2 separate regions of the Homo sapiens genome follow, and region 2 is linked to region 1. A link means that fine-mapping ties the variant in region 1 to the expression of a gene that starts in the linked region. Tissue or cell type: blood mononuclear cells. Region 1 holds a variant in brackets; the other region holds the start of a gene. All regions are shown on one strand. Distances are between the middles of the regions.

What was found. PIP is the estimated chance that this variant, and not a neighbour inherited with it, causes the effect.
Region 2: it holds the start of PXDN, and the variant in region 1 is fine-mapped to the expression of PXDN in blood mononuclear cells (TOPMed, PIP above 0.99). The same link has a PIP of 0.9 or more in NK cells, T cells and whole blood.

The regions. Positions count from the first base shown.
Region 1 is chr2:1,796,072-1,807,832 of GRCh38, forward strand. MYT1L (myelin transcription factor 1 like) reads right to left here. Exons shown (of 25, transcript NM_001303052.2): 23 at 5,625-5,728. Among named protein-coding and RNA genes, the nearest start is that of PXDN, 57 kb to the left of the region's middle. RefSeq lists enhancers at 5,674-6,175, 6,176-6,675, 7,902-8,534. The variant C/G (reference allele first, on the strand shown) is at 4,618.
Region 2 is chr2:1,740,495-1,752,255 of GRCh38, forward strand. PXDN (peroxidasin) reads right to left here and starts at 4,021. Exons shown (of 23, transcript NM_012293.3): 1 at 3,762-4,021. The coding sequence starts at 3,961. It overlaps LOC124907724 (a long non-coding RNA gene), which reads left to right and starts at 10,233. Exons shown (of 2, transcript XR_007086189.1): 1 at 10,233-10,980. RefSeq lists an enhancer at 10,786-11,286.

The DNA of each region.
Region 1 (11,761 bases):
AACATATAAGAGCTATTAAATTCCGACTGCAGCACCACGTGACGCTGTGTTGAAACAGGGTCACACTCACACGTGTTTTGAGGCTGTCACACTGCAACACAGCTGCGTGGTCCAGAAGCCTAAAATATTTGCCATCTGGTCCTTTATAGAAAATGTTTGCCAATCCCTGGTCTAGACTAAGTACCTTGATGGCGTGATGTGTTTAGAAAACATTTCCGGAAGAAGTGTAAAATGGGTGGGAATCCCAAGGCGTTAGCAGTGGGGTGGTGGAAGGGTGTAACCCCAAGGAAAGTGTCCTCGTGCAGGGAGGACTGCCTCCTGCCCATGCCCGTGCTGACCAGGGAGGCTGGATCACAGAGAGGCTTAGCCCCAGGGAGAACAGCCATCTTCTGAAAGTGGTGCAGGCTGTGGGATTAACTGACCTGCCAATCTTAGAAGTCAAGCTGCACAGGGCTGTTCACTCTGGTCCATCTGGGCCCTCGCACCAGGAGCTGGGGGGTTTCTTGTGAATAGCCTGTCCTGAAAACACGAGCTCCCTTTTATACTCAAATACCCCCATCCCCACCTCCCTGACAAATGCCTGCTGTTTGGGCCACGGGGGGCAGCATCCCAGCCTCCCAGCCGGCTCCGAGCCATCCTCCTTCTGCTCCTGCTGTTTCCTGTGCCTGGAGTGCTCCTTTCCCTCCTCCACCTCCCGTGTCTGCAGGACTCCCGCCGTCTCTCCTCGGGCTCCTTGCTCCAGGCCCCCACGGTGGGGTCTCGAACTCCGGCTCTCAGCACTCATGTGGTTCACACAAATGCCGCTTGCCCAGGCCGTGCCCTGCACTTGAGTCCCCTGCTCTCTCCTCCTCAGCGGCAGTTTTGTTTTTTTCCGGATTCTGATAACAAGCAACTTCTGGGTGTCCCCTGGGGCCGAGGGCAAGCTTTTCTTGTCTCTGCTCCGGGCTCTGGTGTGAACTGAGTTGAATCGGATGAGATGCGTCTGGGGAATCGTGGAGTCCAGAACCAAGGCTTGGGTGTGTCCAGCTTGGGTGCTTCAGCCCTTGAAGCTGAGGCCACACTGAATCCAGTTGAATGGGGTTGGGGAAACGCAGACCCCACAGGCACCTCGGCCGTTCTGCTGGTGCTGGGCCACCCCCAGAGGAAGCCTGCATTAGAGACTGGGAAGGGACCGGTGTCCGGACTTCTTTTTTTTTCTTTTCCCGCCCATGGCGCGATCTTGGCTCTCTGCAAGCTCCACCTCCTGGGTTCACGCCATTCTCCTGCCTCAGCCTCCCGAGTACCTGGGACTACAGGCGCCCGCCACCACGCTAGGCTTTTTTGTATTTTTAGTAGAGACGGGGTTTCACCGTGTTAGCCAGGATGGTCTCGATTTCCTGACCTCGTGATCTGCCCGCCTCGGCCTCCCAAAGTGCTGGGATTACAGGCGTGAGCCACTGTGCCCGGCCAGGGGCCCGGACTTCTGATTGCGTTTGTGTGAGGTGAAGACCCCGACGCAGACTCTTCTTTTCAAGCTGCCAAGCATAAGAATGGATTTTTCAGCCACATAGGAATTGTGTTGGTCGCACTAATTGGACCTCAAATAGCATTTAAACACATTCCAAATTGGAAACCTCATCTTCTCAATTAAATAAAATTGCGTTTGTCCTAATTTGAATTCTTACAACTGAACAGTGAAAAATACCTTTCCAAGTTTTAGTAAGAACACTCCTGGGCTTGAGAGGTAACAAGCAACCCCTTCCGCAGAGAGTGGCAGGAGAGGCCTTTCCTGCATCCGGCACAGGCGCGGCGGTCTCCCCCCATCCGGCACAGGCGCGGCGGTCTCCCCCTTCTCCGGCACAGGCGCGGCGGTCTCCCCCTTCTCCGGCACAGGCGCGGCGGTCTCCCCCTTCTCCGGCACAGGCGCGGCGGTCTCCCCCCATCCGGCACAGGCGCGGCGGTCTCCCCCCATCCGGCACAGGCGCGGCGGTCTCCCCCTTCTCCGGCACAGGCGCGGCGGTCTCCCTCCATCCGGCACAGGCGCGGCGGTCTCCCTCTTCTCCGGCACAGGCGCGGCGGTCTCCCTCCATCCGGCACAGGCGCGGCGGTCTCCCTCCATCCGGCACAGGCGCGGCGGTCTCCCTCTTCTCCGGCACAGGCGCGGCGGTCTCCCTCCATCCGGCACAGGCGCGGCGGTCTCCCTCCATCCGGCACAGGCGTGGCGGTCTTCCCCATCCGGCACAGGTGTGAAATTTAAAGGCTTGGACGGAGTTTCCTTTTTCCTTCTCTTGGATTTGTTCTTTATCAGATTTAAATCTGGACCTCTCCCTGTGCAGGACCCTCATCACCGGGCTGTAGGCCTGAGCACTGACCCTACCGTTCTTTCCTCCGCTCCCATTCCAGAGAGAACATCAGGCCGTGGGCACCCACTTCTCAGTTATCTCATGGCTTGGGCTTGGGACAGGCCTGCAGCCCTGTGTCATCTCTGGCTTGGGCTCTGTGCACAGGTCTGCATCCTCGTGTCAGTGTGTCTTGAACATGTCATGACGCACTGGGAGAAGTCTGCCTTTCTCTTGGGTCAGAGTGGACAAGAAAACACGGGGTCTGGGCCAGTTCCCCTTCCTGGCCATGCTCCCTGAGGGTGTGCGGGCCTGAGAGGCACGGGAAAGTCAGGACCTTCTAAAGGAAAATGCAAGGGGCATGAAGGCTGCTGCAGGAAGGCCGAGGCCATCAGGCAGGGCCGCTTTATGCCCTGGAGAGCTGGCCTGCCCCACGTTCCTCCTCCATACTCCCCGGGCAGTGGCCGAGGCACAGGCAGCAAGGAGGGCTCCTGGCTGTGGGCGCACATTGTTTTCTGGTAAGTTTTGCTCCAGATCTAACCTGTTTAAAGAACATCAGGCTCTAAGCTGCCTGAGTCAGCAGCTGCCTGTCTCTGAGCTCAGGCCTGGTGCTCACAGAACAACTTCTGGGCTGGAGCTCATCATCCGACCCTGAGAGCTGCAGAGCTGGGGGACTCCGGCTCAGCGCATTCCCATCCCTTCTAGAATAGAGGAAGGTCCATCCCTGGGCACATCTGGGAAGTCACCTCTCTCATCAGCCGAGTCAGTGAGAATAAATGTGAACTCTTCACATTCATTTTTGACATCAGGTCCAAATAGATGCTGTTAGGAGCAACTACTCATCTCAGAGATAAAGGCACAAAGGAGCCAGTGAGAACAGACACAGACCTGAGTGTTTCCTGAGGGGGAGGCCACGCCCGTGCAGGTGCAGAGCGTGCCTGGGGTTCCTACTCTAAGCAGCCTGCGTAGGCACATGCGTTGTTCTTTAGGGCTCAGATCCAGGCGGCATGACCTCTAAGCCTACTCAGCCCTCGGCTGAGCCCCAGCCCCAGTACTTCATCCACAGCTGGCATCAGAGCTGCCGTCTATCCCTCATGGACAGCCACGGAGCAGCAGGCCTTCACTGCAGAAGGAGGGGTTTTGGAAAGTGGGAAGAACCCCCTTCCTGAATGGCATCCTATTGGAATTGGGTTGCCCCAGTAGACCATGGACTCAACACCCTGGACAGACAAGGGCATTCTGCCTCATCAGAGAGTGCCCCAAAAGGTGCCATTCAAAGGAGGAAATAAATTAAGATTTTCAGGCTTGTCACCCTCATAAACAGAATACAACTTGATATGGTTTGGCTCTGTGTCCCCACCCAAATCTCACCTCGAATTATAATCCCTATAATTCCCACCTGTGAAGGGCAGGACCAGGTGGAGGTAATTAAATCATGGGGGCGTTCCCCCATGCTGTCCTCATGATAGTGAGTGAGTCTCACAAGATCTGATGGTTTTATGAGTGTCTGGCATTTCCTCTGCTTGCACTTCTCCTTCCTGCCACCTTGTGAAGAAGGTGCCTTGCTTCCTCTTTACCTTCTGCCATGATTGTAAATTTCCTGAGGCCTCCCCAGCCATGTGGAACTGTGAGTCCATTAAACGCATTTCCTTTATAAACTACCCAGTCTCAAGTATTTATTAGCAGTGTGAGAACGGAGTAATACTCAAGGGTGAATTTTTGATCTGTCCCAATTAAACAATCTTTGCTGACTTGGTCACCTCCTACTCTCTCCCAGAAACAGCAGCTCCTGAGTGCTCTGGCAGCCATGGAGTCTCCTATACAGTCCAAGATGCTGCCTCCATGGCCTCGGCTGGTCCCGGGGGTGAGGAATGCCACAGGCTGTTACTCCATTCCCCAAGCCTAACGTTCAGGTAAGTCTTAAGGGAAATTCCAACCTGTGTTGGGTGAGCCCCAGCCAGGCCAATGCGAGACTCTGGGAAGACCTGAACACAGCCCCTGGGGCTACCAGGTCTGTGAGATCAAGGCAGTGATGCCCTCTGGGGAAGTAGGTTGGCATCAAAACACCCAGGCAGCAGCCACATGGCCTGGTGGGGAGTTCCCACCCTTGGCCTCATCCTTGGTACTCACGGGGGGCCTGGAAATCCCTTTCGGTTGCTTGGTGGGGCCCCAGCCCCAGAGGATGTCTCCATCCTTGGGAAAACTGTGTCCAGTGGGTAGAAACCACCTGTTGAGCAGAGCCGTTGACCACACCCGGCTGACTATGGGAAAGGCCCTCAACCTTCCCCAGCCTCAACCT[C/G]TGCATTTACAGAGCGGGGATAATAAGGGAGCCCTCGGAGTGTGTTAGGAGGAGAGCATCATCACGTAGATGGCTGGCGGTGACACCATCCTCATCTCCATCCAGTTCTCGGGGCTCATTCCCAGCAAACCGAGCAACCTTCATGGAGGCTGGTCAGCATCCCCCGAGAACCTCATCACACCGTGGCCTGCTGGGGAGGGGCCAGAATGGAGACCTCATTTCTAAGAGGAAGGGACACCTCTGCTCACCCTGTGGGCAATGTGAGGGTCGGGTGGTCAGCAAATAAATTCCACTCCCAGAGTGTACTTCGGCGGGACCCTAACACAGCAAGGTGGGGGATGCCAGGCACAAGGCTCATGGTCAGACAGGGTCCAGCCTGGCCTCTGTGGCTTCGGCTTGGCTGAGGAAGCTGCCTCTCCATCTTAGAAGCTGTATGTTTAAGATGAGGCTGAGGACGTTTACCCTGTGGGCTGCTTGTGGGCATGGAGGGGGTTAGGTGACCACAGCTGCTCTGCCAGCTGCCACTGCTCTCTCTCCATCCCCAGGCTCTGCAGCTGCAAGTCACTGGGGCCACTTCCCCAAATCCCAGACACCCAGGAGTCCTATGTGGCAGGCACTCCTTGTTTTAAATTCTGGGAACATCGGCTGTCGCCATACATTTAATATAGTGATTAAATAACAGGAGGACCTGAAGTATCTTGGAAGGAAAACCTTCATTGTTTGCAGGAACAGGCGATCCTCTGAAAATGCCTATTCACAAATGCACTTTATTAAAAAACACAAACACACATGCAGACTGAAAACGAGAGAACCACGGCCCCTGCTACAGCGAACACTGCCACGGAATGGTGTCTGCGGAAGACCAATATCATAAGGTGGAAAAATAAAGGAAATAAAAGAGCAAATAAGAGGAAACGACAGCTCTCCTAAAAGCTGATTTCATGCCATGTATCTCTGGTATAATGGCGCGTGTTAGAGCTAAAATTGAGGGCTTCAAAAACTGTTACCTGAGTTCTGAGTTTAATCATATCGGCTTCCATCTGGGAATTGGATTCATTTAGCTCCTTGATTTCTTCATCTAACTGTTTGATTTCTTCATCATTTTCTATACCTGTAATAATGAATATTAGTATGTTAAAACTGTTATATACAAAAATATTAGAGTTAGAATTTTGGGAGCTTTCTTTGTTCCTTTTATATTCGTAATTGAATTTGCTTGGAAAATAGACTCTTGAATTAGAAAGGAAAAAATCATCACAATCTCTGTGTCTTTCTATTCCCTACCACCGCCCCTTCCCCACCTAAGTTCCCCTACAAAAAGGAACAAACAATTGAGACGCACAGAAGACTCCCAGGCACTTTGAGGGTCGAGCTCCCAGGGACAGTTAACCTGGGTCTTAGATGTATCGAGGCAGAAACCACCTGGTCCTGAGTGCCGATTTGCTGAGCCTGGCCTGTTTTCTCCTGCTTTTGTTCTCTCTCTCGACTCGCTGTCTGCATCAGTCATTCTGCAAACACCCCAGGCTTGGAGCCAGGCTCTGCAGGTACGTTCACCAACAAGGCCAGGTCCTCCCGCCCTCACTCAGGTCAGGTTCTGGGTCGGAAAATGGGCAACAGACGTGTAACGACAAATGCCGTCCAGCAAACGCTGAGGATGACCTCACCTTACCCACCGACAGGAAGCTGTGGGAAGTGGGAGAGGGACATGGGGGCTGGCCGGAGGGAGATGGCCACAAAAGGGCTCTCTGAATATTCGACATTTAGCAAATAAAAAATCTCATTCTGAATGATTAAAAAGTATGCACTAACTAACAGAATTCCCAATTTGTAAACTCTGCCAGAATGATGACCTCGGCCAGGTGTGTACCTGACCATCTGAGTGTCCCTGGTGGGTGACTGCTGCCCTGCCGAGGTCCCTGGGGCACCTGGATCAGTCCTGGCATAGCTGGGCACAGGGCCCAGATGCCCATATTTACAAAGGCCATTCTGGACACTTGCTTCCCTGGCCGGCTGTGTCTGGTTACTGGCAACATTACACTGCCAACGCCAAAGAGAAGGAGATTCCTCTCTATTTGTGACCACTTGACCTCACACAATTGGGTGTACACAGAAGGAGAGCAGGAGTTTGGCAAACACAATCACCCTAGAAAATTCAGGATTTGAGATTGCTGTTCTCATTGGCCACACAGCACCACAATGGATCTTTACTCAAAACTAATGGAAAATGTATCCAGGCCTCCTAGGACTCCCAGTGGGTAGATGCTGTTTTCAAGCTTTGCAGACAGAAGGGCAGAAGGGGTACAATCAACCAGAGGCCGAGGCCTGAGAGCACCCCAAAAACCCTGCTGACATCAGCAGAACAGAGGTGGAGGCTCCTCTCTACCAAGACGTTAGAAAGATGAGAGTAAGAGAAAGTGATGGATCAGTGGGATTGGGCCTTAGATGCGGCTTTTAGTGAAACGAAAAAAAAGTTATACCCTCAAGATAAAAATACCCAATGCAAAAAATCCCAATTCATAAAGCAACTAAATTATGAACGAACGTATCATTTCAGAAGCATTCCCCACAAGCTTCTGTTAAACTGCAAGCATCCAAATGCCTTTAGAACACCTCCATGTGAAGGAGGCCCTCAGAACACTGGACGTGGTGAAGCTTCGACCCTCTACAGCTGTCACAGGCAAATTTCTCAAGCACATTCCTAGGAATCCCATCTCGCAGAGGCCTTTCAAAAACCTTGGACTGGGATGCTTAGTTTGAAGAATTCATGATAAATGTCAAACTAACTGGCCTATCAGGCTTTGTTATCTAATTGATCTGCCAGATCAGGTCAACTGTTCTGACAGAAGTCAGTGTCATTTTAAATCCAAATAAAAGTCTTGATACGGGTCCCATGACAACCTTTCATCTCTAATTTTGTTCTGGGAGTGATGGATGGGTGGATATTACTTCCATAGCTCTGCTCTGTCCTGGGGGACCACCCTCAGGCCCAAGTGGTCACCAACAGCCCTTTGTGGGAGCCTGGGAACGTCTCAGTCCTGGGGCTGCCCACTGCGGCTCTGTGCAGCATGCCATTCCTTTGTAAGGGGGAGGAGGGAGACAGGGAAACGGTGCCAGGAAGAACCGGCAGGTCACAGAGCATTCCCGGCCCATGAGATTCTGTAGGACGAGGGTATGTGGAAGAGGAGGGCCTGCAAACTGATTCTGTAGAGCTGTCCACAGCCACATTCCTGGGACATCCTGCGAGCCCCCAGGCACGTGCGCCTCGGCGTGAAGCCCCCTCAGGGAGAGGAGAGCTCTGGGTTGGGTGGGAATTCTCCTTATCCCTGCAGCAGGGCAGTGACTGGCCCAGGAAGCAGTCCCTGGGGTTGCTGGGGCCTCTGAGCTGAGCCTCACTTTGTGGATGGTTAGGCTGGAACTAGGGTTTTTTTGTTGTTGTTGTTTGTTTGTTTTGAGATGGAGTTTGCTCTTGTTGCCCAGGCTGGAGTGCAATGGCGTGACCTTGGCTCACTGCAACCTCCACCTCTCGGATTCAAACGATTCTCCTGTCTCAGCCTCCTGAGTAGCTGGGATTATACGTGCCTGCCACTACACCCGGCTAATTTTTGGTATTTTTAGTAGAGATGGGGTTTCACCATGTTGGCCAGGCTGGTCTTGAACTCCTGACCTCAGGTGATCTGCCCACCTCAGCCTCCCAAACTGCTGGGATTACAGGCGTGAGCCACCGCGCCCAGCCACAACTAGGGTTTTATAATACATTCCACCAGTTGGCCTGCAAGCTGTCAGGAGAAACTGCCTTTATAAAAAACTGGCCTGAGCAGGGAGGGCCCAGCCAAAAAGCAGCATCTCAGAGCCAGAAAATCCACCCACTGGACACCAAAGCAAAGAAGCAAACAAATCCTACTCAAATTAGCATAGCGTGGTCCTGGAAGATTTTGATTTACTTCAGGATCCTGGTAGCTCTTGAGAGACCAGTGTCCCATGGTGAACCCAGCCAGCGCTGGTCACTCTCACTAATGGCTTGGTGGAATTTCCATGCCTCCTGGAATTTCCTTTTCCTTACAGCTGAATAGAAACGTGAGTTCCCACAGTTTGGAGCTCTCAGGAATATTAAGCGAAATAAGTAGGTGAAGTTCCTGACAAAGCGCTTCATGTTTTCAGGGCTTGATGGAGGTTAGAGCTCCTTTCCCTAGCTTGCTTTCTGCTGTGATAGTAAAAGGAAAGAAAAAGCATTATCTTATTTCCTTCTCTCCTAAACACTGCCCCTGCCCCCACTACCCGCCAAAAAGCCACTGATGGTACAACTTCAGCCAAGGTGCCAAGGTGCTAAGAGGCATACAGTGAACTTCTGCAAAAGGGTTCTGAAGGGAGACTCACTAACAGCCACGCCGGCTGCTCAGGCAGAGCTGAGTACTAATGCGTGATGAGATCACTCCACGGATAAAGAAAATAAGGTGATCCTTGTTGGGCAGAGACATGAGAGCAGGCTCATCCCTAAACTTAAAAAAGAAAGAAAGAAAAATACTTTAGAGCCAGAAGGGAACCTCAAGGACATTTAGAATAGCTGCTTCCCTTTCAGACAAATGCTCAAGAGAAAGCGCTAAAATCCAGTGCCAGGGTCCTTCTTGGCCGAGTCAGTGCCTCACAGTGGATTCCGGTGGCTTCTCTGTCCCACACAGTGTCTGGGCCTCACATGGAGGGAAGCTGCTGCGCACTCTTGTTACACTGAAGGTATAAAAATGACCCCAGGAAAGGCTTTACACTCAGGATATGAAAGAAAAGAAGGCCGGGCATGGTGGCTCACGCCTATAATCCCAGCACTTTGGGAGGCTGAGGTGGGCAGATCGCTTGAGCTCAGGAGTTCAAGAGCAACACAGGGGGCAACATAGTCAGACCTCATCTATAGTAAAATATTTAAGGCCAGGCATAGTGGCTTACACCTGTAATCCCAGCACTTTGGGAGGCCGAGGGAGGTGGATTGCTTGAGCTCAGGAGTTTGAGAGCAGCCTGGGCAACATGGCGAAGCCCCATCTCTACCAAAAATACAAAAATTAGCTGAGTGTGATAGTGCACATCTGTAGTCCCAGCTACACAGGAGGCTGAGGTGGGAGGATCGCTTGACCCTGGGAGGCGGAGGTTGCAGTAAGCCAAGATGGTGCTACTGCTCTCCAGCCTGGGTGACAGAGCGAGACCCAGTCCAAAAAAAGAGAGGGATTGTCTTTTCCACATCTACAGCAAGGGCAACAGGAACACAGAGCTTCAGATGCAAAGAATGGTACCACAGCATCAGGAATTGGATGCTGTGCCTCTGTCCCCTGAAGAGCATCAGGAATTGGATGCTGTGCCTCTGTCCCCTGAAGAGCCGCAGGAATTGGATGCTGTGCCTCTGTCCCCTGATGAGCAGCAGGAAAGGTCCCTGGACCCTTCCTGGATTAGCTACACAGACATGGAAATGATGCCTGGGCACACAACTGTGCTCTGGGGGTAAGAAAGAACTATCTCAGTTTGGTGCAAACAGTGTCAGGAATCGACAGCCCCAGGCATCAGCACACACTTGGACTTAGGAAGACCCACTTCCACCACCTGTTCTCCCAGTGACCTGCAGCTCCTCTTTTTTACCCATGGACGTGCGTGCATTAGGATCTGCAGCAAGGGGAACTGTTTGTCCTAAAACTTAGCACAACACGAACTGTGTGTCTAGAAACTTGGGTGAAATGCAGCGACCTGGCTGAAGGCTGCCCAGCAGCAGCAGCTGGGCCCAGCGGGCGGACGGTGGCCCTGGAATGCCCGTGTCCCGGCTGCTTTCTGGTGGGATGACACCCAGTTGTTGGTTCCTCTAGTTTAGAGTCACAGACCAACTGCTTATCTTTATCCCTCCGAGTTAGCACCTGTTTTTGTGAATTAACTCCTTGTGTGCAGCAGTAATAGGAATGTCTAGTGCCCTCAATGCCGACTCAGGCCCACCGATGAAGAGATGGCCACCTCAGGGATCTGCCCACCGCCGCCCAGGTGGACCAGCCCAGGTGTGAATGGCCCCTCCTCTAGGATTGGCAGATCTGTTCTCTCCGTATTTTCTTTCCTTTTCTGTTTTGAACTGGCCTACCTAACCTAACCGCCACTTCCTTCATTAATGGGGAACAAAGGCACGTGGACTCGGATCAATTGTCTAAGGATTTCCACTTTAATCCAGGGTTATTCGGGGGTGAAATGCCCTCTAAGTATTTTGAAAAGCGCCCGGCATGCAGATGGGGCTTAGGGAATGTTTTCTTTCTGGCAAGGAGCACTGCTCCGTAATAACTAGAAAGCGAAAGTTGGCTATCCTGGTGTCTCAAAAGCGGGGTCCTTACACTGGCTGCTTGGGACTGCATCCACAGGGAGAGGTTGTGAGGGTGGGTCAGGGTATTCTGGAAGGCAGAAACTGACAGGAGCAGCCTGGGAGACAGGAGCAGCCTGGGGGACAGGATGCCTCCAGGAGCCCCAGACCTTGAGGACCAATGTCAAGAAGCTGATGACCTTTCTGGTGAACAATGGGCCACATGTTGAGGAATAGTTTGTACTGGCTGCTGGCAGAGGGAGTCCTGCAGGTACACACACGTGGGACGTTCAGGCGTCTCTCATGCTGTCCTCAGGACCACCAATAACAGTCAGATGAGAGGAGACCCCCGTGGCTGTGGCCAGGGGCTTCATGCCTGCATGCTTGGGAGCTGCTCAGGTGTGGCTCACTCTTGGTGGATTTGGGGAGGAGGTGCCCTTTGGTAAAGGTACAGCAGGAGGGTGCCAGGTTCTGCCCAGGTTCAGCTTTGTAGGGTGGATCTGTGCATCATAGGTCTGGGAGCCTTCAGCCCAGGGCATCCGTGCTTTGTGGTGCTTGAAGAGGTTTGCAGGCTCCATTTAGAAATACAAAATTAGGGGTGCATCTTGCAAGTGAAAGCTGAGAAGGGGAGGCTGGGCTTCTGCTGTGAAGGGGACCAGTCTGCTCAATGGCTACAGGTTACAGCTGATCTCATTATTCCCAGGAGCCATGTGCTATAAAGTTACTGCACACAGGCTGAGAGCAGAATCACTGCTTTTGGAAACAAAGGGCCAAGCTCCTGCCACCCTCTGGTCCCATTTTTGTCAATCGATCAATAAAAAACCCTGTTAATAT
Region 2 (11,761 bases), 56 kb before region 1:
GGCCTGCAGGCGGGAGGAGACCCACAGAGCAGCAACACTGGAACCTTCTGCTCATGTGAACACAGGCCGGGAGGTGGGCTGGTCCACTCAGTCCAGACCACCAAGAGTGCAGGGTCCCAAGCACTGTGCGCCCTTTCCCCATACCCCGTCCCACCAGGACTGCACACACCTGGGGTCATCTTACCACTCCCAGGAAGCCCCCTGACTCTCTGGGGGCCCCACTGGACTGGGGATTCCATGAGGGCAAGATTCCGGTCTCGTTTTCTGTGGGTGGCCCAACACCCAGCACACGGCGTGGGCCTAACACCCAGCAGATGGTGAGAAAAACTGAGAATGAGGAGCAGCTGTCTGGAGATTCTGCAGGAGAGGAGGCCCCGCCCTGGCTGCCATGCGCCTGCCTGTGGTTTCTCTGCAATGCGACCTCCCTGAGCCCACCCCAAGCTCCACATGCCCAGACCCCTCCAATGTCAGGGTTTCTGTCACAGAACTGCAGTTTGGGACAACTCATGGCTTTGCAGCGGCCTGGACTGTGGTGAGGATGTTAGTTTTGATGAATCCATGACCATAGCCTCAACCGTGGCGGCTCCAGGGAAGAGAGGAAGGCAGGACAGGAGGAGGGCGTGGAGGGCCTAGCTCCAGTGTGTCCAGCCAGCACCCTAGCGGCGTGACCGTGAAGAAGAATGTTTCAAATGTGACCTCCCCAAAAAGCCTGGGGTTGAGAGGAGGAAAGGAAGGGGCGTACAACGGCATACTTTATCTTTAATACTAGCTTTGAACTACCATTGTGATGAACTTCTATTGTGTTGGGTACAGAATGATTCTGTATTCAAAAACCAACCATTTCTACACAGCTGAACTAAGTAAGGCCTCCAGAGGGGAGGCGCTCTGCAGGAGACCCAACAGCAAGGCCAAACCGCCGACCGAGCAGCACAGGGCGCGGGCTCCTGCCATTCCAGAGCTCCCTTCACACTTGCAGCTGAGGGAGCTCAAAGGTCGATCCAAACTGAGTCATGGATGGGCTTATTCCACTGTTTTCCAAAGCCCCCAAGCCACAAATCAAACAACCCAGTATCAGACCCGCTTAAACACACTCCTGGAGCATTTGAGGGGAAGGAGCAATAAGATGTTTTCCAATGGCTCTGATTTAATCTTTTGGGGGACTGGGATGGAGGTGAGTCTCTAAAAGCAAAGGGACGGTGTGATGGTTGGATGAGCCAACTAACTTTGGGGCAGGTTTTTTTTTAAATTTTCATATATAGTATATTCCCAATTTCTACCAAAAAATTGTAATAGAAAATAATCACATATACATGAGAGCACAGTCCTGGGAGAAAGCCGAAAGTGGACATGAAATGTTGCTTCACGTGTAGCATGTATCATGTAGAACTGTGTCATCTCAAGCAACAGCCTACCAGACCATGCCCCCAGAGACCCCTCAACAGGATATCCCCGCAGAATAGGTCTCCCTCTTCCCTCAGTCCCTGCCTCCCCAGGCTGCACTCACTAGCGCTCGCTCATGACACCTGTCCACTGTGCCTAGGTCCGCACAGCTACACCCTCACGTTCTCCCAGGAGACACGGGACTTGCTAAAAATCACGCGGCTGCAATGCATCCAGCCAGGACTCCATTCTGGCCACCAGCGCTACGCTCCTCCTCTTGGCCACAGGAATAGCGTCAGGAGCTGCGCTTCTCTCCCAGAGCTTCTGTTTCCACCGCCAGAAAATGGGTATGTTCATTTCTCCAGTAAAGTGTTTAGTTCTATAAGGGATTCGATCAACTTAACAGCTACCAGTCTACCTGCCTCACAGAATCAACGTGACTCAACAGCGACATTTCGAAGTATCACTGAAGACTGCAAAAACCCCTGAAAGTTTAAGATAGAAATGGATGCAAATGTACCCTATGAGGAAGTGTTGTGCGAGTGGACGATGATGTCACCCGTCTACTCTCAGCTCCTTTTTCAAATTCGGTGAGGCGTTTGTGGACGAGCACACCATGCAAAGCGGAGCAGAGGACCCCATGTGTGTCCTACGACACTTATTTTAACATGTTATTTTCAACAAGCAATTAATATTCCGGGGCAAAACATACCGCAAGCTTTATGAAACTGACCAGATGGGAAAAATCTTTGAGGTGCCATTTTTCCACTGGCTCAGCAAGAATTACATTATCCAGACCCAGGGAAACCTCACCCGGCTCCATTCTAAAAGTCCACTGCTGTTGAGTGAGATGCCCCCGAGTCGTCCGGCCTGGGCTGACCATTCACGGGCTCTGGAAAGAAAGCCTTGGTCTCTCTGCGGAGGAGGAGAGGAACTCGGGCCCCCGCCCCGCCCCAGGGCCTCCAGGAAGCAGCCTGCAAACTCGGCGACCCCTGGGAGCCGTGGTCTGTCCCAGCACTTTGTTTCGGAGGTAGGCGCACTGGCCGCCCACTTCCTGAATTGTTCACTCAATTTTTTTACAACTTTTGCAGACTCTTTGCTGGTGCCAAAAAGTCCTCTGGCTCAGCTAAGAAACGTGAAAACTATTTTTGGCATGCAGAAAAGTCGCTACAGGACTAAATTAGAGTCGGCGCCTGAAACGCAGCCCGCGTTCACAGATCCCGAAAATGTTGAATCCGACTCGCTTCAGAACACAGGAGGCCTGCAGCGAACTCTGGCGGCATCTCGGTACCTGGAGCCGCGGGGCGGAGGGATGGGGATTCCTGCTGTGGAGACCGTGACGCGGGACGGCCCGCAGGACAGGGTGTCAACCCCAACGCAACGCATCCGGTTAAACGTATAGCGCAACTGCGAACACGCTCGCGTGGATTAGAAGCGAAAGAAGAGAAATGCCCGAGGCAGAAACCCGCTCTGAGTCCCGGCTCCATCTAGACCCGGGCTGCCCCGAGACTACCGCGCGGCCCCTCTCGGGAACCCCGGCCGCCCGGCTCGCTCCGGGCGCAGGAAAAGCCCCTGAGAAGCGCGGGGCCCCCAGGACACCCCAGGAGAGGACGCTCCGGGCAGATGCGGGGGCACTGGGAGCGGGGGCGCCGCGGCTGCGGGAACTGAGGCTCCTCTGGGGAGGCTTCCCCGGCGCGGGGGGATGGGGTGGGCACTGCGCTCCAAGGGGCGGGGGAGGGGGAGAGGGCGGAGGCTGGGGGAGGAGAAGGAAGGGGGGGAGGAGGAGGGGAAGGGAGGAGGAGGAGGAAGGGGAGGAGGAGGAGGAAGGGGAGGAGGAGGAGGAAGGGGAGGAGGAAGAGGAGCGGAGGAGGGGAGCGAACAGGACGAGGAACGGGGCGGAGGGGGCTGGGAGGACGGAGGGGGCTGCGCCGCGCTCGGGGAGCGGAGGGGGACCGAGGGGTCCTGAGCGGGGGAAAGGTGAGCGGAGGAGGGGCCGCGAACCAGGGGGAAGCGGGAGGCCGGCGGAGCATGAGAGGGGGCGGCGGGAGGCGAGCGGGGGGAGCCCCGGAGGCTCCAACAACTTCCCAGTCCTGCGGGGATTCCGAGTTCCGAACAAAGGCGGCTACGAAGGCCGCGCGCACAGCGCTCTGTTCCGCCCCTCGGCGTCTCCCGCAGGGCGAACAAAGGCCCAGCGGGTCCCCGCGCCCAGGTCCCCCCACGTCCCCCTTCGGAGGTTCCCTTCTGCGTCCCAAGTCCCCAGGCCCCCCGCGCGCCCGATGCCCCCTCCACCCTCCGCGCCCCCCACCTCCGATCACCCCTGCGCTCCCGGATCTCCACGAAGCCCCGGACCCCGCGCCCCCGGCGTCCCCCGCGGCACTCACAGGATGGAGGTCTGCGGCGCCACGGCGGGCACGGCCTCCAGCAGCAGATGCATGCAGCGCACGGTGGTGCGGAAGCACAGGCAGCGGCTCGGACACCCTGCGCCCGGCTTCTGGGCCACCACGGCCAGCGTCCCCCAGGCGCAGAACAGCACGAGCGCCAACAGGCAGCGGCGCCCGGGGCCCCTGGAGCGCTTGGCCATGGCCGACGGCGCGGACGGACGCTCGGACGCACGGAGCCACCACGGCCGGCTCCCGACTGCGCCCGCCCGGCCGCGGCCCACGTCCCAGCTGTGCGCGGGGGGCGGGGGGCGCCAGCTGTGCACATGCGCGAGGCTCCTCCCGGCCCCTCTGAATCCCCGAGGGCGGGGCGGGGCGAGAACCCGGGGCCCCAGCGTCCGGCCTGAGCGCCCTCATCCCGGTGGGGCGGCCCGCATGGCCAAGGCGAGCGCTCGGGGGCGCGGAGGAGAGCATTGGCACCCCTGATTCTGCGCTCGAGACTCGGGGCTCGGGACCCTGGGGCCTACGCGAAGCTTCTCCACTTCTCTTACCCGTGGTTTCTGCCTGCGCTCACTACGGGTTTTTTAGTTGGCGCCTTAATGTTTGTAACACTTTTAGAGCGCTTGCTCTGATCCGGGCACGATTCCAGGCGCGCAGGCGCGCTCCTCTCTTTCTCCTTCTCCCTACCCGCAACCACGTAGGAAATTATTTAACGTTCCAAAAAAGCCCCTCATTCCTTTTGAGGAAACTGAGGCCCAAGCCCCAAAGCGCACAGCAAGGGAGTCTGCGGGAAGATTAGACCCAGGCGGTCCGGCTCCCCGGGGCCTGTCAGCCACCTGCTCTCTGCCGGCCGCCTGGCTCAGCACAGTTGGGAAAATGAAAGGTCCTGTGTGGAGTCCTTGGCGCGGCGCAATGCAGCCCCCGGGATTCTCGCGGCCTTCAGTGCGTGCCCTCCTGGGACAGACCTAGGAGGAGACCCAGGGAACCCCCCCCCCCCACGTCGGGTGTGTCTAGAGACAGCAGAAGACTTTGGAAAGGAGGGAAGACACTGCGTGAGATACGCACAAAGGTGGCGTTCTCACATAGTTCATACATTCTCTCCAATCATCTCACAAGGACCCAGTCTGAATTTCACAGACAAGGAAGGTGAGGCCAAGTTGCTGAACCCAGGCCACAGGGTGACGGTGCCAGATTCAGAGGCACAGCATGGGCGTGTTCCCGTCGCAAACCCCAAGTCTCAGCTGTGTCCCCGTGCTGGTGTTCTAGCCTGAGCTGCGTTTGAAAGCAGCCTGGAATGGGATTGGTGGGTAATAGGCTAGTTTCCTGTTGCTATGTTAAAACACAAAAGCAACTACCACGAGACATAGCCCGGAGGTCACAGGTGCATTGCTGACCACAGGGCACCATCTAAGGACTGGACCCCCGAGGCTGCTGGCAGGGGGTTCCAGTTCCTTGCCGTGTGGGTCTCCATGGCCTGCACACTGGACATGGCCTGATGCCTCCCAGAGCAGGTATTAGAAGAAAGAGGAAGAGAATGAGAGTACAACACAGAAGCCAGGGTAAAACCTAACCCAGCCTTGGAACTGGCCCCGCATCACACCTGCGGGGTGCATCCTCAGAGGTCGGTGGCTCCCGCTGACATTCCAGATGCCATCTTTCCTGCAGGATTTTATCCACCCTCTACAGCGGATGCAGCTCACACTCCGGATTCCATTTCTCCTGCAGGATCCTATTCACACACTCCGGTGGGCCCAGCTCACACTGCAGACAACATCTCTCCTGCAGGATACTATCCACACACAGAAGTGGGTCCAGCTCACACTGCAGACATCTCTCCTGCAAGATCCTATTCACACATTCCAGTGACTCCAGTTCACACTGTAGATGCCAAAACTTATGCAGGATTCTATGCACACACACTAGTGGTGCATTTCACACTCCGGATGCCGTATCTTCTGCAGAATCCTGTCCACACATTTCAGTGGGTCCAGTTCACGCTCTACATGTGCTCTCTCCTGCGGGCTCCTATCCACACACTCCGGAGGTGCCATTCACACTCTAGATGCCATCTCTCCTGCAGGACGATGTCCACACCCTCCAGTGGGTCCAGTTCACACTCTAGAGGACATCACTTTTGCAGGATCCTCTCTACACATTCCACCGGTGCCATTCACACCACAGATGCTGTCTCTTTGCAGAGTCCTATCCACATGCCCCAGGGCTGCAGCTCACACTGCAGACACCATCACCCCTGCAGTATCCTATCCACACACCTCAGTGGGTCCCATTCACACTCCAGAGGCTATCACTTTTGCAGGATCCTATACACACACTTTAATGGGGCCAGCTCACAGTCCAGAAGCCGTTACTCCAGCATGATTCTAGCTACACACCCCAGTGGCCCAGTTTACACTGCAGATGCCTTGTCTTCTGCAGGATCCTCTCCAGGCACAACAGTGGGTCCAGTTCACACTCCAGTTGCCATCTCTCCTGCAGGACCCTACCCATACACTCAAGTGGGTCCAGTTCACACTCCAAATGCCATCCACCTGCAGCATCCCAACCTCTCACTCAAGTGGGTGCAGTTCACACTCCAGTTGCCATCTCTCCTGCAGGACCCTACCCACACACTACAGTGCTCCACTTCACACAGCAGACATCATCACTGCTGAAGGCTGCTGTCCACACAGTCCTGTGGATGCAGTGCTCACTCCACATGCCATCACTCTTGCAGGATCCTACCCACACACTCGAGGCAGTCCAGATCACACTGCAGATGTCATCACTCCTGCAAGATGCTATCCATACACTCCAGTGGGTTCGGTTCACACTGCAGATGCCATCTCTCCTCAAAGATCCTGTCTACACATAGCAGTGGTTGAGTTTGGGTCCCACCCAAAGATTCCAGTGGGTCCGCTTCCCACTGCACACGCCATCTCACCTGCAGGATTCTCTCCATACACTCCACTCAGTCCAGTTTACATTCTACATGTCGTCTCTCCTGCAAGATTCTATCCACACACTCGAGTAGGTCCAGCTGAAACTCCATATGCCATCGCCCCTGCGGGATCCTGCGCACACTCTCCAGTGGGTTCAGATTAGACTCCGGGTGCCATCGCCCCTGCGGGATCCTGCGCACACATTCGAGTGGGTTTAGTTCAGATTCCGATGCCATCACCCCTGCAGGGTCCTGTCCACGCACTCCAGAGGATTCATTTCAGACTCCGGGTGCCATCGCCCCTGCGGGATCCTGTGCACACACTCCAGTGGGTTCAGATTAGACTCCGGGTGCCATCACCCCTGCAGGATCCTGTGCACACACTCCAGTGAGTTCAGCCATCACCCCGCAGGATCCTGTGCACACACGCCAGTGGGTTCAGCCATCACCCCGCAGGATCCTGTGCACACACACCAGTGGGTCCAGATGCAGATGCCATCACTCCTCCTGGATCCTCTCCACACCCTCCTGTTGTTCCAGCTCACACTGGACGCCATCTCTCCTGCTGGATTCCATCCACAGATGCTCTTGCGTCCAGCACATGCCACAGCAGAGCATCAACTGGGAGCGTAAGGAACATGAGACAGAACCACTGGGGACCATCTTAGAGGCTGCCTACCACGTGTCACTCTTGAGTTTGTGTAGAACAGGGATGCTTGTGAGAATGCTTCTTCTGTATTTCCATAATGGCAGAATGCTGGGTGGGAGCTGCAAACATTATATTCAGCAGAGGAGGAGACAGAGTCCTAGGCAGACTTCAGTACAGTCCTGCTGTTAAGTACCTGGAGCTAGAGCAGACCCCGCAGGTTACAGATGTGGATGGACCTCAGTAAGGCTGCCCTCACTTTAATACTACCTGTGTGTCCAGTGGTCCCCAGGCCATCCACACTTCTGACTGGTTACAGATTCATAGGTTTCTGAGACCCCCTCCAGCTCCATCTCCTGCTGGAACCACCCACACAACAGATGAAAGTGCTGTGGTTACAAATACAGCTGTATTATAATTGATACCAATCTGAACCTCCAAATGAAATACATCAGGTGAGGTCAGGGAGGGTCCCAAATGCAGAGCCTCTGTGCCTGGCCTGTGGGATCAGGGCCCATCACCACCCGGCACAGGGACATGATCACCAACAGGGAAGCTCTACTGAGCTTTGGTGTCCAGAGTTTTCACCAGGGTTTTATGGCTCAAGCAGGACTGATGACACACTGTCCATGGGGTTGAACTCTCCAGGGAGGTCAGGCTGACAGCACAAGGCCCAAACACTTCACCCTACAATCGCATGGTCAGTCCTAGTGATCAGCCTCCATCCTGTGTTCCTTCATCAGCGTCAGCTCAGACATGGCTGGGAGCTCATCATGAATACACACGCTCCTGTCCCTGGGGAAATTCCAAGGGCTTTGGAAGCTCTGTCCCGGGAACCTGAGGAAAAGACCCAATTCCTTCTCAAACACACAAGCTTTACATGGATACTCGTGTTTAGGAAAGTGGCACCCGCTGCTGTGTCTGCCGTTTTAAGCAAGCACCCCGCTCACAAGGCGTAATTACCTTTTTGGTCATCTAGGGACCCTTTCCAAGCCATCCAGGTGTCCTAGGTACTAAGGAGTCACACATCTACCCGCAGCACGCTCTGGGGCTCCGTACTCACTTCCAGATGCTTTCCAGACATCTCCACCTCGATGTCCCACAAGAATTCCAATGTTATGATGTCAGAAACTAGAACATCGCTCTCCATAAAAAATGCGCTTTTTCTCCAGAATCTCTAATGCAATCCTCCGCCAACCTGGAGGTCATTCTCACCTCAATCCCTACCCCATCCTTAAATACAGCAGTCACAGGATCCTGTTAATTCCTTGTGCTGAGCACTGTTCCTTCCACATGGCTGTTGGCAGAGCTCTGGCCCCTGGACCACCACTGAGACCCCTCCTGGGCATGTGCCTTTGGGTCTGCCTGGCTCATCACAGAGAATGAAGCTCACAGAGAATGTGCCGCAGCTCGGACCCTGCCACCGCTGTATGCAAGCACCTCTCAGCCCCCTGCCTAATGGGGTGGGCTTGGGGCCACCATCTCCGGTGGCTTTGCGTCTGTTCTTCCAGCCCCTTCTCTCCACAAACACCAGACATCAACTTATTTCAACTTTATTTCCTGGCAAACTGCTACTGAACCTTCTAGAATCTGCTCAGTTGGGTGGCTCCCTCTGTGCACCCCTCCAGGCCCTGGTTCCCACCGTCTTCCCAGTGTGAATATCCTTCTAGTGCTACAGCCCACCCCACACAGCCCCAGGACAAGGTTTCCATGCCTAGCTCCCTGTCAAGGCCAAGAGCCCTCGGGGATGGACTAGAACAGTCATTGTTGGGTGAAAACAAGTGTACCATGTGCTACACTGCGTGCATTACTGCCCAGCCCCAGATGATCAGGTGGACTCTTGGGCAGCCTTGCAGTTCTGAGTTTGCCCTGACATTCGCTGGGGTGGGTGACAAAGACTAGAAACATCTGGAAAAGACCTCTGCATTCTCTGCTTTAAGTTTGCTCAAGTTTAGAAATCATCAGAAACATCATAATAATGATTATGAGGTCATTTCAGCATCTCAACAGAACTCCAGGGGAAGTGCTGGGTATGGACATTCCATCGTGAGGAGGGGCCCTGTGACTGCAGATACTCAATGCCTTCCAAGTGCGCTGGTGCCACCTTCAAGTGACACTTCTCAGAGTGTCACCCAGTGGCCCAGAGGCTCCCTAGTGTGTAGTCCACCCTCGCTCAGACACGGCGGCCTGTACCTGACATCCACACTCCCCACCTGCTGCCACCCACAGGAGCATTTCAGGGCATCACGAATTGGTGGCTTTTCTTTCCAGTTCAACAGGCATCTCCCAAGTCACCTGTGGTGATTGCTTTTATATGTCCACGTGGCCACACTCATCTAGACATTGCTCTGAAGGTATTGCGGTTGTGGTTAATCTCTATCATCAGTTGACCTTAGGTGGAGGAGGTGACCTTTGATGATGTGAGTGAGCCCTGTCTAAGCAGGTGGAGGCATTGAGAGCAAAACCTGAGGTTTCCCAGAAAAGGAGAAATTTTGCCTCAAGGCTGCAGCTTCAGCTCCTGATTTCAGACCTGCTGGCCCCACAATCACTTGAGCCGATTTAAAAAATCTATCCATCAATCAATGTATCCATCCACCCATCAACTCACCTATTCATACATGTACTCATCCTTGCATCCATTCATCCCTCCCTCCTTCTTTCCCTCCTTCGTTCATTCTTCTCCTCCCCCCTCCCTCCCTCCCTCCCTCCCCCCCTCCCTCCCCCCCTCCCTCCCTCCCTCCCTCCCCCCTCCCTCCCTCCCTCCCTCCCTCCCCCCTCCCTCCCTCCCTCCCTCCCTCCCTCCCCCCTCCCTCCCTCCCTCCCCCCCCTCCCTCCCTCCCCCCCCTCCCCCCCTCCCTCCCTCCCTCCCTTCTCTTCTTTCCTCCTTCTTCCCCCAATCCCTTCCCTCCTTCCCTCCCTTCTCCCCATCCCCATCCACGGATCCATCCTATGGACCCCATCCTATGTGTCCCTGAAGACCCCCGAGTGGCATAGCATTCGTTTGCATGTGTGTGGCATTGGCAGGGGAGTCTGGGCAGGGGGTGGTCAGTGCAATGACTTGGGCCTGAAAGAATGAGGTTTTGGTGGTGAGCTCTTCCCCTGTGGAGCTGAATGTGCAGCCGTGTGTTTTGTTCACGGCTTCCTGCGTCTGCCCTCTAGAGGCCCACAGAAGCCTCGCACCTCCCCAGCCCGGCGTCTGCGGGTGAATTGTCTGAGCAGGAGCACAACAGCTTAAGCTTCATGTTCTCCGGGCCCAGGTGAAATACTCTCACCCCCTCTGATGGCCACTTTCCAATCCTGTTATCCGCCCCCAGTCTTGTGATCTGTCCCACAGCAAACACTCCTTCCAGGTGTGAGTTGTGCCAAGGAACACTGTTTCGTTGTCACACATAGTACTTAGACGCAGTGAGTGAAGAGACACTTGGTCCCGGGCCCCCTTCTCTGCACACACTGCCCTGTGTGCTACAGCATGCCAGGCAGGGTGCCAGGACAGCAGGCCCGTGAAGACCATGGCGGCGGCTGTCTGAAGACCAGCTCACAGCAGGAGCTGCGCTGAGATCTTCTCCTGGGTGCTCATGCTGGGGCCCGAGGTCGTATGGAAAAGGCTTGTCCCCCTTGCTGGATGTCACAAGGCTCAGGTGAGTGGGTCAGAGCCATGTTCCCAGTGAGTTCCCGGTCAGTGTCAGCTCAACCACAGCAAAGGACAGCCGGGCAGGGCACCAGGCTCCTGGCAGACCCACGGTGAGAGGCAGCTGCAGGCTCAGAACACAATTTACTGTGTTCAGTTCAGCCACAGAAAGATGAGATTCTAGAATTTAAATGCTAAGCATGGAGAGTCACCACTTCTCTGTCCAAAGGTCCCTCCATCCGCCAGAGCACCGGGTCAGGCACCCGGGACATGCCCAGGAGTGGAGAGAAGAGGGGTCCTGAGGGTCCTCACCTTGTGAGAGTCACATCTTCACTGCTCCTCCCCCATGGGATCTTTATGTAAATTAAGCCGCACACTTAGATTCCACATTTTTCTCAGATAGGCGCCAACAGGGGCTTTCTGCATGCCTAGGTGATGAAGTCAGAGGGTGGAAGGCTCATGTCTGGGAGAGGGGTCCCGCTAATAACCCCCTCCCCAACAGGGGTCCTGGGTGTAGACAGAGGCCTCCCCAGCCCAGGCCCTTGGCACGCTGTGTGCGGAGGTGGGCGACCCTCTGTCCACCCTCGGGGAGAGGGTCTGCTTCCTGCCTTCCATGAGCCGCGCTGGGGCTAGCCAAGGCCTCTGCAGGAGGGGGAAGCACCGAGAGGGTTTCAGGGTTACAGTGGAGGGAGTTTAATTGGGCGACTGAGAGGTGAGGCAGTTAGGGAAGCAACCAAGCATCTCCACCATGCCCCCACCCTCGGAGGCCATGGAAGGCGGGGGGAGGAACG